Regions from separate parts of the Homo sapiens genome. Here region 1 is linked to region 2. The links come from fine-mapping of genetic effects on gene expression. A gene starts in region 2. The other region holds a variant in brackets. All regions are shown on one strand. Distances are from middle to middle. Region 1 overlaps TAFA1 (TAFA chemokine like family member 1). Region 2 holds the start of TAFA4 (TAFA chemokine like family member 4).

Region 1 (8,339 bases), 490 kb after region 2:
CCAGATATAAGAATAGTGAGGGAAAAAGGTAGCTGCCTTCCAGGGTTCTGTGCTTGTGCTTCTTAGAGGAAGGATGTTACCAGGAAGAGGCTGTCTTACCCAGGACTGCAATTTTCAGGCCCCTTGCAACAAGGTGGAACCCCTTACCAATGGAATTTGAGTGTATGTAATCTGAGTCATTTTCGAGCCAAGGTAATTACGAAGTAGATGGGCCTTCTCTACTCTCTGCCACTTGATGTGGATGCCTTTTGTAGTCATATATAACAGAGCCACGATACAGAGGTGATTCAGAGGCTTCCTGTATCACCACATGGAGGAGAGCTACCCCTACACCTGAATCAATTTTTATGTGAATGAGAAGTAAATATCTATTGCATCAAGCCACTGAATCAAGAATGTGGAGGTATACAGGACTATAACATGAAATTACTGACCCTCAATCCTTATCAGCTATCTGATGGAGAGAAACAGTTTATAGTAAAGATTGCCTGTGAGATATTTAATCTATTCTTTTCTGCAGGCACTAAAATCCATTTCTGGTTTCAGTCAGACTAGTTGAGTGCTGATGGCTACACTGAGCCATTTTGTGTATACTACCTTATTGTTAGCAAAGCATCCCATACATTTTGTAGATTTAGAATATAGATTTCTTCTCCTCCCTTTCCTCCCTGCCTCCCTCTTTCTTTTTTCCTTCATTCACTCACTAGTAGCCACTACGTGTCATAAACTCTACTGGGTTATTGAAATGTGATAAGAATATTAGTATTGCTATAGTTTGAATGTCTCCTCCAAAACTCATGCTAAAACTTAACAGTATTGAGAGGTGGGGCCTTCAAGAGATGACTGAGTCACATGAGTGCTCTGCCCTTATGAATGAATTAATCCCCTCATGGATAAATGAGTTGTCTTTGGAGGGGAATGGATGGCCTTAGAAGAAGAGGAAGAGAGACCTGAGCAAGCACATTAGCTTAGCCCCTTTGACATGTAATACCCTTTGCCACGTTGGGATTCTGGTCCAAGTCCCCACCAGCAAGAAAGCCCTCTCCAGATGCAGCTAGCTCCTGGGTGTCCACAACTGTAAGAAATAAATTCCTTTTCTTTAATAATTACTCAGTTTCAGGGATTCTGTTATAAGCAACAGAAAATGGACTAATTAAAAAAATTGATATAAGGAGTGGGGTGGTGGTGATCATGAATACCTGAAAATGTGGAAGCAACTTTGCAACTGCATAATGGGCAGAGGCTGGAAGAATTTGGAGCAGCAGGATTCTGGTGAGGGCTAAGAAAACAGGAAGACTAGGCTACAGCCCATGTATCAGTATATAATCACACATCTGGCCATTTATCCTTCCATGTAAAGTGCACAGCCAGGTACACTGCTCAAAGTTCTGCCCACTGGGAAGATATCCCTTCACTGCTGTCCTTCAGGGATGTCCTAGAAAGGGGCTGTAGTGCTGCAGCTGTCCACTTTCAGATGGTGCCTGCATATCATGCAGAACCATCTGTGAACCAGGCCCTAGTCTTCTCTTCCTCTGTCAACTGATCATAGGGAACTCCTCATGAAGCCCTCAGTTCAGGCTGAGGGAGAAAAGGCAGGGTGGCAGAGGTGGAGACCATGGGCATTTGAGACACTTCCTGATGTAACTTACTTGTGCCTTCAGGACCTTCTCGAGCCCGATCATGTATATATCAATTCTATTTGATGATGGAATGCTGGTGTGCACAACCCACTTTATGGCTAGATGGGTCAGAAAGTACCCAGTTCATGATAGGCAGTTCAGGTTGCATGATGAGTTGATGACCCATAGTTAAACGTTCAGTTTCCACCAAAGCCCAGTAACAGGCCAAGAGCTATCTCTCAAAAGGAGAGTAGTAATCTGCAGAAGATGGCAGGGCTTTGCTCTAAAATCTTAGAGGCCTTTGTTGTGATTCACCTATGGGGGCTTGCCAGAGGCTCCACACAGTGTCACTATCTGCCACTGACACCTCAAGCACCATTGGATCTGCTGGGTCATATAGCCCAAGTGGCAGAGCAGCTTACAAAGCAGCCTGCACCTGTTGCAGAGCCTTCTCTTGTTCTGGACCTCACTCAAAACCGGCAGTCTTTCAGGTCACTTGATAAATGGACTAGAGTAACACACCCAAATGAGGAATATGTTTCCTCCAAAATCCAAATAGGCCCACTAGGCCTTGTGTTTCTTTCTTGGTTGTAGGGGTGGCCAAATGCAGCAACTTATTCTTTACCTTAGAAAGAATATCTCGACAGACCCAACACCACTGGACCCCTAGAAATTTTACTGAGGTAGAAGATCCCTTAATTTTAGTCAGATATAGTTCCAGAGGGAGGAACACTGCCACCAGGAGACACAACAATGATTCCATTAAATTGGAAGTTAAGATTGCCACCTGGACACTTTGGGCTCCTCTACCTTTAAGTCAACAGGCTAAGAAGGGGGTTACAGTGTTGGCTGCGGTGACTGACCTGTATTATCAAGATAAAATCAGTCTACTATTCCACAATGGAGGTAAGGAAGAGTATGTGTGGAATACAAGAGATCTTAGTATTACCATTCCCTGTGACTAAGGTCAATGGGAAACTACAACAGTCCAATCCAGGCAGGACTACAAATGGCCCAGACCCTTCAGGAATGAAGGTTTGGGTCACTCTACCAGGAAAAATTCATGACCTCTTGAGGCATTTGCTGAAGGCAAAGGGAATACAGAATGGGTAGTAGAAGAAACTAGTCATTAATACCAGCTATGACCACGTGACCAGTTGCAGAAACGAGGGCTGTAATTGTCATATTTCCTCCTCCTTTTGTTAAAAACATGTTTGTGCATGTATACACTTGTGCTATAAAAAATCTTCATTTTGTTTCCTTTTTCCTTTATCATGTGCCCTAAAATTTATTGACTTCTGTATTAGTCCATTTTCATGCTGCTGATAAAGACATATCCAAGATTGGGCAATTTACAAAAGAAAGAGGTTTAATGGACTTACAGTTCTGTGTGGCTGGGGAGGCCTCACAATCATGGTGGGAGGTGAAAGGCATGTTTCACATGGTGACAGACAATAGAAGAGAGTTCGTGCAGGGAAACTTCTGTTTTTAAAGCCATCAGCTCTTTTGAGACTCATTCACTATCATGAGAACAGTGCAGGAAAGATCTGCCCCCATAACTCAATCACCTCCCACCCAGTTTCTCCCATGCCATGTGGGAATTGTGGGGGTTACAATTTGAGATGAGATTTGGAGGGGGGGGACACAGCTAAACCATATCAATTTCATATTGGCATTTAAGTGTTGTTAACTTTATGTAATAGCATTTGAGTTGGGGATTGGTGCAGTTCCAGTTGTTCAAAGGAAGTTGTATTATGTTAGGCATAATTATGATCTTATTATTGTCTTTATTTGAAGATTATGTATGATCTCAGGAGTTGTATATGCATTCAAGTTGACAAGGAATGGACTTGTGATTGTTAATACTGAGTGTCATCTTGATTGGATTGAAGGATGCAAAGTATCGATCCCGGGTGTGTCTATCAGGGTGTTGCCAAAGGAGATTAACATTTGAGTCAGTGGGCTGGGAAAGGCAGACCCACCCTTAATCTGGGCATTCACAATGTAATCAGCTACCAGCACAGCCAGAATAAAAGCAGGCAGAAGAACCTGAGAAGACTAGACTGGTTTAGCCTTCCAGCCTACATCTTTCTCCCATGCTGTATACTTCCTGCCCTCAAACATCGGATTCCAAGTTCTTCAGCTTTGGGACTCAGACTGGCTTCCTAGCTCCTCGGCCTGCAGATGGCCTGTTGTAAGGCCTTGTGATTGTGTGAGTTAATACTCCTTGATAAACTCATATATATATATATATATATATATATATATATGTATGTATATATATTCTATTACTTCTGTCCCTCTAGAGAACCCTGACTAATACAGCTTTGTAGAAGGCCAAACTCAAGAGTGATATACTAGGGTATGTGGCAGAAGAAATTTCTATGCAAAATATAGACGTTTCATGGTCACATTTGTCCACTTACACTGAGATTTGGGAGGAAAAGAATAATTTGAAGACAGAATTTATAAATAAAAAGAAAGAAGAGTAGAAAGATTTGGAAAACTCTCAGCCTGGCCATGTAAAAAGTGAAAAAGCATGTTCAGGAGAGAAAAACCAATGGTGTAGCCCAGTGACTGTTTCCTAAAGAGATTAGCATGGATAGAAGGGAGCCAAGTATTATTCCATAAGACAATGGAAGAAAGATCCCAAAGGCATTTTATAGATCTTTGAGGCTGCTGCTCCCATCACAGGCCCAGGGGGCTAGGAAGGCAGAATGATTTCAGGGGACAGGCCTGACACTCTCTACATGGGCTTGCTGCTCAGGGATACCACGACACTTTGCTCCCAGAACCCTGGTACAGCAATGTGTGGCCATCCTAGCTGTGGCTCAAGTGGCCTTAATTGAGATGAAACCCACTCCCCAGAAGATGCAAGCCATAAACTTTGGTGTCACCAAAGTGGTGCTAATTCTGCAGGCTTGCAGAAAACAAGAGCTATGGAAGCATGGCAGCCTTCACCTAGATTTCAAAGAATGTGTCAGACAACCTGAGGGCAAGGCAGAGACTTATCACTGGGGTGGAGCCACCACAGAGAACTTCCTCTAGAGCAATGCTGAGTGGAAAGGTGCGTTGAAGGTGCTCCAGGGAGTCCCCACCAGAACAATGCCTAATGGAGCCATGGGAGTGGGACTAACACCAAGACCCCA[T/C]AACTGTAGAGAGAACAGTGTGCAATGCAACCCTAAGTGAGCTGGGTAGACTGAGTCCAGCCAAGCCACAGGGGTTGGACTGCCCAAGGCCTTGGGGGCCCAACCACAACTGGTGTGCAGAAAATGCAGATATGGAGCCAGAGGAGACTATTCTGTTATTCTGGAGTCTTTTTTTCTGAGACAAGGTCTCACTCTGTTTCCTGGGCTGGAGTGCAGTGATACAATCCTGGCTCACTGTAACCTCCCACTCTGGGCTCAAGCAAAACTTCCACCTTAGCCTCCCAAGTAGTTGGGGCTATTGACATGTGCCACCAGACCCAATGAATTTTTGTATTTTTAGTAGAGACAGGGTTTTGTCTGTTGCTCAGGCTGGTCTCAAACTCCTGGGCTCAAGCAATCTGCCCAGCTCCATCTCCCAAAGTGCTTGTATTACAGGCATGAGCCACTGCACATGGCTAATCTGGAGTCTTATTACTTAATGTCTGCTCTTGGGTTTTGGACTTGCTTGGGGCCTGTTACTCCTTTCTTCTAGCCTATTTCTCCATTTTGGAATGGGAATGTGTACCCTATGTCTCTCCCACCGTGTGTCTTGGAAGTAGATGCCTTGTTTTGATTTCACAAAAAAGTAGACGGACTTTTGAGTTGGTGCTAGAACAAGTTAAGACTTTAGGGCTATGGGGTTGAAATGAATATATTTGTATGCGAGAAGGATATGAGTTTCGGGAGGCCAGGGGTAGAATGCTATGGTTTGAAAATTTGTACCCTCCAAAACTTATGTTAAAACTTAATCCCCAGTGTGGCAATATTGACAGGTGGGGCCTTTAAGGGGTAATTGGGTCATAAGGACTCTGCCCTTATCAATGAATTCATTTCTTAATGAATGAATTCCTTAATGGATTCATGGGTTTTCATGAGAGTGAAACTGGTGGCTTTATAAGAAGAGAAAGAGAGAATTGAGGTGGCATATTCCGTCCCCTTGCCATGTTATGCCCTGTGTTGCCTTGGGACTTTACAGAGTCACTCCTAGGAAGAAGGCCCTTACGAGATGCAGCCCTTTGGCCTTAGGCTTGTCAGCCTTCAGAACTGTAAGAAATAATTTTATTTATAAATTAACCAGATGCAGATATTCTCTTACAAGCAACATAAGAGAATGGACCATAAGAAAGTCCATAAGAAAATGGACTAATACAACTATTTTAAACTATATTCTCTTTATGTAGACCTGGACATATTTCTCTTTAACATTGTGCCAAGAATAGCACAATGTTATTGTGCTATTAAGCAACAGCCTGGATTAAGCTGGGAACATTCTAAATCTTGTAACCAATCTTGTTTCCCTCTTTGCATTGCCTGTTAGAAGGCTTACAGCCAAACTTGCGATGCATTGGTGGCATATTTATAGGATTGCGTGACCTTCTCTCAGTTCCCTCCCAGCTTTCTTTTAAACATCTCATCCTCATTTCCCCTGTCTTCTTACTTCTTTCATGTCTATATTACATTTTATGTTTACATTGCTGTGTGGGATTTGTCCATGTAAGTTACATTTGCTCTTTTATAAAATATTTATAAATAAAAAGAGAAAGAACAGAAACAGTTTTCAGCACTATTTAGAGTTTTCTAATAAAGTGGGCAAAATCTGGACAACAGAAGTGGAGCTGGCTGTATCTGTTAACAAGAGCCAAGGTGTCACCAGGAAAGGCATCTGCCTTCCTGAGTGCCAGGGGTTATTCATAACCAGTGACTCGCTGTTCATTTGTGAAGCTCTATGTTGACTTAATCACAACTTTCCACAGAGACATCTGTTGGTTCCACATTTGGGTTCAATTCAAATCAGAGCCCAAGTTTTGGAATGAACTCTGAGCAATCCTTAAATTTATTCTATTTTGTACAATATACACCTGCTGGTCTTACCTGCTTGGGGACTACATTATTAGATGACCAATTAATGAACACTTGCTGAAATTTCAACATTAGCCTGGAGCTCAAGAAAGAAATTTGGCCCCAACTTGACTTTGTAAGTTTTTTACCTATTACTCCCTGAGGCCTCAGCCAAACTAATTGGTGTCTTTGAAACATGCTTTGTGATTTCTCTCCTCTCTGTCCTGTTTCTCCTATGAACTTCACCTGAGTTAAGAACAATAGCTTACATCTATCAAACACTTATATGCCAGGTACTTATAAATCTTTTTACTTATTAACATGTTCAAAGCTTGCGTAGATCATATAAGGTAGATACTGTTATGCCCACCTTACAAATGAAGAAACTAAGGGCAGGGCATAAGAGTTGAATTCCTTTCATGTCTACATTACACTTTATCTGGTTGTGATGGAAATATCTATATAAGTCACCTTTAATGCCACATGGAAGATTTATAAATTAGAAATTAAAAGAACAGAAATAATTTTGTTTTCAGCAAGAGCCAGAATTTCAATCCATTCTACCTTATTCCCCAGCCCGTGCTCTTAACCACTACAGCTTTGGTTCTCAACTCTGGTTATCCCTTAGTATCCCTCATGGAGCTTTTAAAAAATGCAAATGTCTAGACCCTGCTTCAGCTCAATCAAGTAAAAATATCTAGGGGTGTGGCCAAGCCACTGATATTTTAAAAAACCTCCCTAGGTGATTCTAACATGTAGTCTGGCAGGACGTTAATCGTACTCTTTAATTTCCCTTATATGAAGGGCCTGTTTTTACATGGTTAAGATATGTTATTCTCAGTCCTTCTTACTTTTTCTGCATAAGTAGAATGAACACTCCCCTTGCCATAGTGATCCTTGATGCAAAACCAAAAGCATGCATTCACAGTCATGTGGCTAAGATGCCAAGATTTCCTATTGGAGATACTACTTCTTTCATAATCTCCACTCTAGTTTTTGCCAGCAAAACTGTGATGTAACTTTGTTACCCTAAATATCAGAGCATTGACCTAAAAATCAGAATGGACCTGTTTCCTTTCTGACATTTCTTGGGTTTATTCTCTGTATTGGTTAGAAATTTGGGCTCTAAGTACAATGAATAGCAATTATACTAGAAACAATTTAATTCCTGTGCTATGTAGTGAGACATCCAAACACAGATCTAACCATAACATTCATTGACACAAAACCCTTTAGTGCCTGATTCCACTGCTCTTGGGCAGTTTCAATATCCACCATGGCTACCAGGCTGCTGCATGAGCTCATTCCTAATGAGATTTCCAGTCTCACTTCTTTCCAGACCCATCCCACACCCTTCTCTACCCAGGCACATTGAACTTCTTGCAGCTCCTTGGATTCATTAGGATCCTTCTTGTTGATGCTGGGCTTTTGCACATGCCATTGTTTCTGCCATGGACATTCGATCCCATCCTCTTACCTAGTCACTTAGAGTCCCAGACTGGATGTTAGTTCTGATGAGAAGCCATCTAGAACACCCTCCTGCTTCCATCATTTAACACCCTAACCTCTGCTCTCAGAGCACTCTGGGCTCATCTCCATCAGAGCACACATCACACAACTTTGCAATCACCAATTTGCCTGTCATCTCCCCTGAACTTTATAATCATTGAAGCAGAAATCATGTCCTATTGGT
Region 2 (8,339 bases):
TACTAAGTGCAAAATTGTGTTGCAAATTTTTAAAACTGAAGCTTCGCTAGAAACAAGAGGATTTTTTAAACAGGCCCAGGAGAGTCAGAACGTTCCTTTCAGGCATAGTCAGTCATCAGCACGTATTGATTAAGCACCAGGACATGCCAGTAGTGTTCTGGATGTTATACAAATGAGGAAAGTAAACACAATGTCCAAGTCACGTGGTGTCACTACCTACAAATACAGAGGCACATCCAGGGGTGTTTTGTGAATGTGTGGTGTGTGCAAAATACCGTTGGCGTGACCTTCACAGGTTCTTACATAAGAAAATAAATCATTTGACCCCATTTTTAGGAAACAGATGTTGATTGATTTTACACAACCTCAAAGGATGCAAAATGGGTCGCAAAGAGAGAGAGAAAGAATGTTACCGAATGAATGACAGGAATGTTTTCTTGTAAGAGGAACTACTGTCTCTGCCTGGAACAATTTTTGCCCAGATATTCGCTTGGATGGCTTTTTGTCAGTTAGGTCTTGACTCAAACGTCACTACCTCATAGGGACCTTCTCTAGGCAGCCAATCTAAATTAAACCCATCCTCATATCCTTCTAATGCTCTAGCCTTCTTTTATTTTCTTTTAGCACTTATTGTGCTCTGAAATGACCTTATTCATATATTTGTTGAATTATTTACTGTCCAACCTTCCCCACAAGAATACACGCAACTCACATGTGCCTTGTTTGTCACCATATCCTAGAGCCTGGCTCACAGCAGGCGCTTGATAAATAGCTGAATGAGGAAACAATTGGATAATTGGGGCTTAGTGGCTATTTCTTTTTTTTTTTTTTAATATAGCTTGCCTTTTTTGTGGTGATTTGGTTAGTAAATCTCAATTTATCAGATCATTCTGGCTTCTTGCTACTGCACAAGAGACATCAGGTCATTGGAAACTTACAGATGAGTCCCTTAACTGTACTATCTTACTTTAGAAACAAACACACTTTTATGCTTGTATGAATTTGCTAGGGCTGCCATACAAATACCACAAACTAGGTGGCTTAAACAACAGAAATTTCTTGTCTTACAGTTCTGGAGGCTAGAAGTCCAAGGTTAAGGTGTTAGCAGGGTTGGTTCCTTCTGAGGGCTGCAAAGAATTTGTTACACGCCTCTCTTCTCCCTAGGTGGTTTGCTGGCAATCTTTGGCATTCCTTAGCTTGTGGAAGTATCACTCCATCTCTGTCCTGATTTCTACATGGTGTTCTTCCTGTGTGCATGTCTGTCTCCAAATTTCCCCATTTTATAAGGACACAGTCATACTGGATTCGGGCTCATTCTAAAGACCTCATTTAATTTAATTCCATAAAGACCCTATCTCCAAATAATGTCACATTCTGTGGTACTGGGGGTTATGACTTAAACATATAAATTTTAGGGAGACAAATTTGAACCTCTAACAGTACTGAACATCCAGGATGGAAGAACATGGTATTAGGTTGAGCCAAACACAGTTGCTTACGTTTTGGTTTTCCTCACCAGGACAAGAAACCCCCAGTGCAGGAAAATTGGAGACATGGAAAACAGGGCTTAAGTAAACACGCAGATCTTTGCCAGAACCATGTTTGTCACACAGTGTGGAAGCAACGAATATCTGGTGAACAAATGAATGTGGACTTGTTCTTCTAAATGACTTGCTCCCTCACTTCTTCCAAGTCTTGGTTCAGATATTACCTTCTCAGTGGGAACTAGCCTAACTACTGTTCTTAAAACCACCATCTCCCCAGTACTCACCTTCTTTTCTGTTACTTTCTTTCTCTCTATAACACTGACCACTTTCTATCAAACTCTGTAATTCACTTATTTGTCATGTTAATTGCCCATCTCTCCCTACTAGAAGATAAGTTCCATGAACTCAGGAACTTTTCACTGTTGTGTTTCCTTCTCTATGTACCAGCACTTGTTACAGCGCCTGACACAGAGTAGGCCCTCAGTTTTGCTGAGTGAGTGAATGAATGAATGAATGCTGTTGAGAAAGAGCTCTGGAATCTCCTGGCATGCTATTTCAGGTTTTGCTTGGATCTCCCCTTTGGCCGTCACAGAACTTCAATGCTAGTCTTTAAAGGAAATCTCAAAGATCAAGCGCCTATCTCCAAAGCTTGAATTCTCTCTTAAACTGGTGACATCTTGATAACAAATTGCCTTTGAATGTAGAACCCCCATTTTAATAATAAGAGAGTAAGAGATTGAAACTGTTTAACAAGTAAAATGTGCTATGGTATGTGTGGTACGGGGAACAGAAGCAGAAGGCCTGCCATACGTTAGTTCAAGGGGTAGAGTCAGAGAAGGGTGAACATACTTTGGAGTGCAGCAGGGGCAGGATGGCACATAATTGTATGTCAATGCAGAGTAAAAGGACCAGAAGATGATAAGCCAAGCCAATGACAGTGAGCAGCATAGTGGTACAGAGCAACGTTTTCTAACTTTATGCATGCACCAGCCACTTGGGCATCTTGTTAAAATGAAGATTCTACTTCTGGGGTGGGGCCTGAAAGTCTGCAGTTCTAAAGTGTTCTCAAGGGACCGCTCTACGACGCCATGCTTTGCATACTAAAGAGCATGGATTTACTAGTTACCTGTGTAATCTTCAGTAAACGATTTAACTTCTCTGTGCTTCAGTTATCTCATCTATAAAATAGAGATCAGATGAACTAATCCCAGTAAAATGAATACCATTAAGTGACACTGATTATCAGTTACTTCACTTGCGGAAGAGTGGAGGGCATGACTAGGAATGGGGTGGGAGGAGGGAGTCAAAGAAGTCTTAGCTGAATTTTTTTTTTTTTTTTTTTTTTTTTTGAGACGAAGTCTCGCTCTGTCGACCAGGCTGGAGTGCAGTGGTGCGATCTCGGCTCACTGCAAGCTCCGCCTCCCCGGTTCACGCCATTCTCCTGCCTCAGCCTCCCGAGTAGCTGGGACTACAAGCACCCGCCACCACGCCTGGCTAATTTTTGTATTTTTAGTAGAGACGGGGTTTCACCGTGTTAGTCAGGATGGTCTCGATCTCCCGACCTCATGATCCACCCGCCTCAGCCTCCCAAAGTGCTGGGATTACAGGCGTGAGCAACCGAGCCCGGCCCCAGCTGTATTTTATACATTAAAAAAGAAAAGTATTTAGGTATTCATACGTGGGCCGAGTTTTCTCCTCTCTCATACAAGCACATTACACGCGAAGCCAGATTAGTTCATGAATGTGCTACTGCACGGGGTGGCTAAGAAATCCTGCTTGCAAACCGCTTTGGGTCCTGCGTGGAGAATGGTTTCGAGTGAGAGCCGAACCCTAAATCCGTCTTCCTTATGTGGAGCTCAACGCGACTCTCAGGTATTCAGGAAGAATACCTTTTGCTCAGCACCTGCGGAGTGGTGGCCACAGCGAGGCGCTCGGGAGAGGCGCCTGGAGGCCGGCAGTGGGGGCGCGCCGCCTGAGCAGGGGTGCGGGGCGGGGAGAAGGCCGGCCCACGTGGACCGCGGGGCCAGGCAGGGACAGGAGCAGCCGGGCGGCCCGGCCAATCAGCGCGTTCCGCGGCGGGCCCGGCCCCTCCTGGTCAGCGCGCTAGCTGGGCTCGGCTCCGCACTGCTAGCTGCGCGCCGCCCTGGACGGGGCGCACCGACTGCGCGCGCGGCTGCGGGCAAACATCGGGAGTCCTGCCTCAGCTGCCGCTTCTCCAGCAGCAGCTTCAGGCTTCTCCCGCAGGAGCTTCGGGCTTCTCCTGGTAGAGACGTGGGAACTTTTCTTCTCCTGGCGAGGCTGCAGAGGTGATGGGCCGCTCCCGGGGCTCCCGCGGGGAGGCGGCACGGTGAGCGTCCTCGGGCTCCGGTGCGGCGATCAGTACCTAGTTCCGGACGCGCCGGTCCGACTTGGATGCCGGCTCTAGTCGAGTAAGAAGGGTTGGAAGGGATAAGGAGGGGCGAGAGGATGGGGTGGGGGTGGATTTGGACCCTGTATTTAGGTGCTGTCTCGTGGGCAGCCGCTGCCTCTCGGCTGGTACCGAGTTAACTCAGCTCGGTGCAGCTCCCCTCATCCCGGCTCTCTGGGGCGCCGGGGAGAGTGCCTGTGCTGAGGTCGGCGTGCAACCCGAAGTTGGAAGGGGCACTCCGAAGTAAGGATGTGTGGCTGGAGAGAGGCAGCGGCCGCTTCCAGTTTCGGGGTTCATGTCTGACAGAATCCCCGGGGGTGCTCTGCTGATGCGGAGGAGGCCACTCGATGAATTGGTATAGGGGGTGGTGAACTCACCGTGAGCTCTTTTCTGGACAAGTCGACCTTAGCGCTTCATCCCTTTAATCTGAGCTAGGATCTTTCTAGGAGCAAGCAGGTGGGAGCCGGTCAGCGTCCCCCCGCCCCCACCCCCACCCTGAAGCTCTGGTTGCTAGGATCTTGCTTGAAGGGCGCAGCGAGCGCTCGGGAGGCGTCTTCCAGCTGGGAGCGCAAAGCTTCCCGCCCAAGTGGAGAACTGGAGCGGGTCTGGAAGTTGCGTCTCTTTCCGCGGGAGGCATCTCAGATTTGCCCACCAAGGTGGCATCTCTACATTTCTTTCGCTCTTTTTCCCACTTTGCCCTGTTAATCCGCTCCTAGAAGAGAGGGCATCCTTGACCCTACGCAAGGAGCTCGGGAGAGGATTGGAACTGGAAAGCTTGATCTCCTGCACCTGGTGAGGCTGCCCAAGCCAGACACAGTGCCGCTGGTGCGTTTTCTTCTCGAATCAGCATCATTTAACGTTTAGGGGCTCCACGGAGCCTTAGTAAAGCTGTGAATCAGCTCCTAAGCAGTATGTACATGCACGGGTTCACGGACTCGCCGAGACCTAGCCTGGTGCCCATCCCCCGTCACCGAGATTCAGGGACCCCCCTTTGGTTTAACGTCTTTATCCCTGAACTCTTTTCCCTTTTAACTTTTCAATGGTCTTCCCTCTGAGACAAGCAAGGTTGATGTGATGTGACAGGCGATCCCCGTGTGTGGGGATGGGCGCCTTCGAAGCTTTGGTCTGTTTCTGTCTCTAATATCCTTGGCATAAAGCTTGTCCACCATAACTCGTAGCTGCCACCTGCAGACTCGGTCACCCAAACTTGTGCACACTGATGGCCTAGCTTCCTAATCACACGCATCTTCGTTTGGCCCCCTCTAGAACACTCGCTGAGGAGGGAAGAGGTGGGGGCAGTTTGTGTCAGAGCCCAGTTCAGGAAGGCCTTGGATTTTTTTAAAGGCTAAAATAATTTAGGAACAGCCATTTTGCAATATAATTAGTGTTACCACTCAGTCACTGAGAACAAATGTATGACTTGAAGAATTCTTCAATAGCTCGCGTGGGTTTTATAGTGAGAAGAATTTCTGCTAAGTTTATAGTCATATCAGTGTGAAAGCCCAACACTTCCTCTAGATGGGAAATACAGGCCTTAATAAGGTAGTGTGAGAGCAGTTTTCAGAATCATTATGACGAATGATGACTTGTGTCCTCCCAAAATGACCGAGTGAGTTGGCATGGCTCATTTGTGGAAGAAGCTTTCTTCATATGCACGGACATTTCTTAATCAATATTCTCATAGCAGAAAGCCGTATTTCAAGGTTCCCTTCCTAAGTTCTTCTGTCTCATTGTTCTGCTTTGCGTGACTTTGCTTTCATCCCTCAGTACCATCTTAACTGCCCTTTGACACTTTAAAATTTATTATAAGGCTTCAAGTCACAATTTGACTTGGCCACTTTTCCCTGCTAAAGATAAGTAAGTTGTCCTGTCCAGAAAAGCAGTGGCTGCCAATTTCTCTATCTTTGAATGACTTTAATTGTATTACTTGTTCCCTTAGCACATACAAAAACCCCTACAAATATCTCTGCTTGATTATTGGATATTTTTCATTGAAGGCAACCATTTTTATATTTCTAGTACTAGAATATCCTAGGTCACTTGAATTTCAATATTCATTTTCTGATCTTTTTAGACATGTGTATTGTTTGATGACCTAGTTCCATTTAGTAATTAAAAAAGAAAAAGAAGAAACTCCTTTGCTCCCCGCTACCACCTCCTTTTCAGTGGTACCTAGCCTTTTCCTAATAGCTGCTTTTTTTCTGCACCACTCATTTATTGTTACACTTAATATAATACTTTGCTATGTAAATGGCATGTTGATGCATGTGATATTAAAACTGCATTCACTGGGGATTAACCATTGGATATGACATCATCAGCAGCCAATCCTTGATCTGATTTGAACATGCATTGACAAAAGTCATATTATCATATTGAGCAAGTGATTCTATATTGCCTGTGATGAATAAGGGAAAGAAGGAAGTCTTTTTGGCACTTACTAACTCTCCGTTAGCTGCCCAGTTTGAGAGTTTTGGGTATTTCTATACTAAGAGGCTTAGCTTAATAATAACATTCTCAGATTGCAATTTTATAGATCTCTTTAGAATTTGCATAAGTAGATTTTCCCCCTTGTGCTTTCTTCCTCTTTGCGAGTTTTTCACCCTGTGTTCTGGCTCTGTTTCTTTACAAATATGTAAAGACATCACAGTAAATGGACTAATCTTTTGCTTTTATTTTTTGTCCTAGAGATAGCCACGTAGGTGATGGGCTAATTTGAGTACATGAGTTCATTTCTTCAGGTGTTGGCTATTAAATCACTCAGGATTAGCAAGATGACTTAAAGTCCTGAAGCCAATCAATCATAAATGATTGGGAGGCCATACAGTATATTTATCCTAATTTGTCAAGATTCAGGATTGAGGGTGGGGGATTGAGGCCATAGGAAACAAGATTCACGATTCAGGCAATAGGAAACAAAGATATCCACAAAGGTATTGGTGAAGCGATCTTGGCCACATTAATCACTTCATAATTATTTGTTTTGAAAATGTTATTTCTGAAAGCCATGTCAGAACCTAGACAGCCCTGACTTCGAGACTTAAGTATGGTATGGCAGCCCTGACTTAGAGACTTAAGCTGTAGTATGGCACTGCACTTTGTAATGCCTCACTCAATTTGTGATCTCCTGTAACCCACCTCTCAAAAGATAAAATTGACCTTGACTTCCCATCTATTTGGTATCTGCTGAAAAATAAGAGAAATTCTTCCTGTTGTACAGTTGCTATTCAATTCATTTCCCTTCAGTCAGTCAAAAGGGCTCTTTTTTTTTTTTTAAATAAACTTAATTGTAAAATCTGGTTTAAGGAAACGCTCAAAGAATTTTAAATCTAGAAAGTACCTCAGATTTCACCTTTCTAGAAGATCAGGGGTAGGAGGTGTTGTCCTACCTTGGATCTATTATGTTATTTAAAAAACCTGGGATTAGAATCCCGGAGTCCTAATTCCTAGCCCAGTGCACTTTCCAATGAAGACTGGGAGAGAATGACTCCTGTGATGTGGTGGGACCCCTTCCCTTGGCTGTCTCTGCGGAGGAGGGCCACATTGGCTTCTTGCACCATCAGTTTGCTGGACTACCATGCTAGTTGAGCCCACCTCAAGGATTGGACAGCTGTATACACCAGCTAGCTTGGGTTACTTCCTAGTAGCTGCGACAGTATCCACAGTTATAAACGAAAGGTTTAAAGGGGAGCTGGCGATGGAAGAGTATTGGGCAGGGTGACGCAATTTGAACCTAACTGAACACATGGAAAGACATGGATGTTAGAATGATGGTCAGGCAGTTTAAGATAATGATTTATGGTTTATTTGTGAAAGAACTCAGAATATCAATCTATTAAGTGATAGGCTGCCCTTTCATACTTAGTGCCTTTTAGTTGCTATAAAAGCCAGTACTAGCCAATAATTTGGTACAACATTATTTTCTGGCATGATTGTGAATAACGATAATGGTACCCCACATTTGTTGAACACTCAGTATGTGCCAGCTGTAGCGTGTTGATGTTATGGAAACATTCTGGTTACTAGATGGCTTTCTTTATATGGATGAACTACTGATTTTCAGAGTTATGAATCTAAGGCAACATTGAATCTTTTTTAGTCATTCTTTTTAATTCAAAAGCTGTCAGGATCTTAGAGTAGCAAATCATTAACACAAGCATAAATAATTTTAATTCAGAAGTATGGTAGCATCAAATATTAGGGAGTTCTTGTTAATAAAATGACAAGACACCATTTAGAAAGATAATAAAGACATGGGTAATTTGTTTCCTTTTATGAGATTGTGGTATTGTTAGTCCAGAAGAGTAAAATATCCTTTTTGGAAAAATAGGAAGATATCATTGTATTTCTTTTTTCTTTTTTTTTTTTGAGATGGTGTCTCTGTTACCCAGGCTGGAGTGCAGTGGTATGATCACAGCTCTCTGCAAACTTGACCTCCTGGGCTA

What was found. PIP is the estimated chance that this variant, and not a neighbour inherited with it, causes the effect. A credible set is the group of variants that fine-mapping cannot tell apart.
Region 1: its variant is the best candidate, but not a certain one, in a credible set for the expression of TAFA4 in transverse colon (GTEx, PIP 0.90).

What each region holds. Positions count from the first base shown.
Region 1 is chr3:68,434,963-68,443,301 of GRCh38, reverse strand. The region is part of intron 3 of TAFA1 (TAFA chemokine like family member 1); the gene reads right to left. Among named protein-coding and RNA genes, the nearest start is that of TAFA1, 430 kb to the right of the region's middle. The variant T/C (reference allele first, on the strand shown) is at 4,769.
Region 2 is chr3:68,927,817-68,936,155 of GRCh38, reverse strand. It overlaps TAFA4 (TAFA chemokine like family member 4), which reads left to right and starts at 3,609. Exons shown (of 6, transcript NM_182522.5): 1 at 3,609-3,916.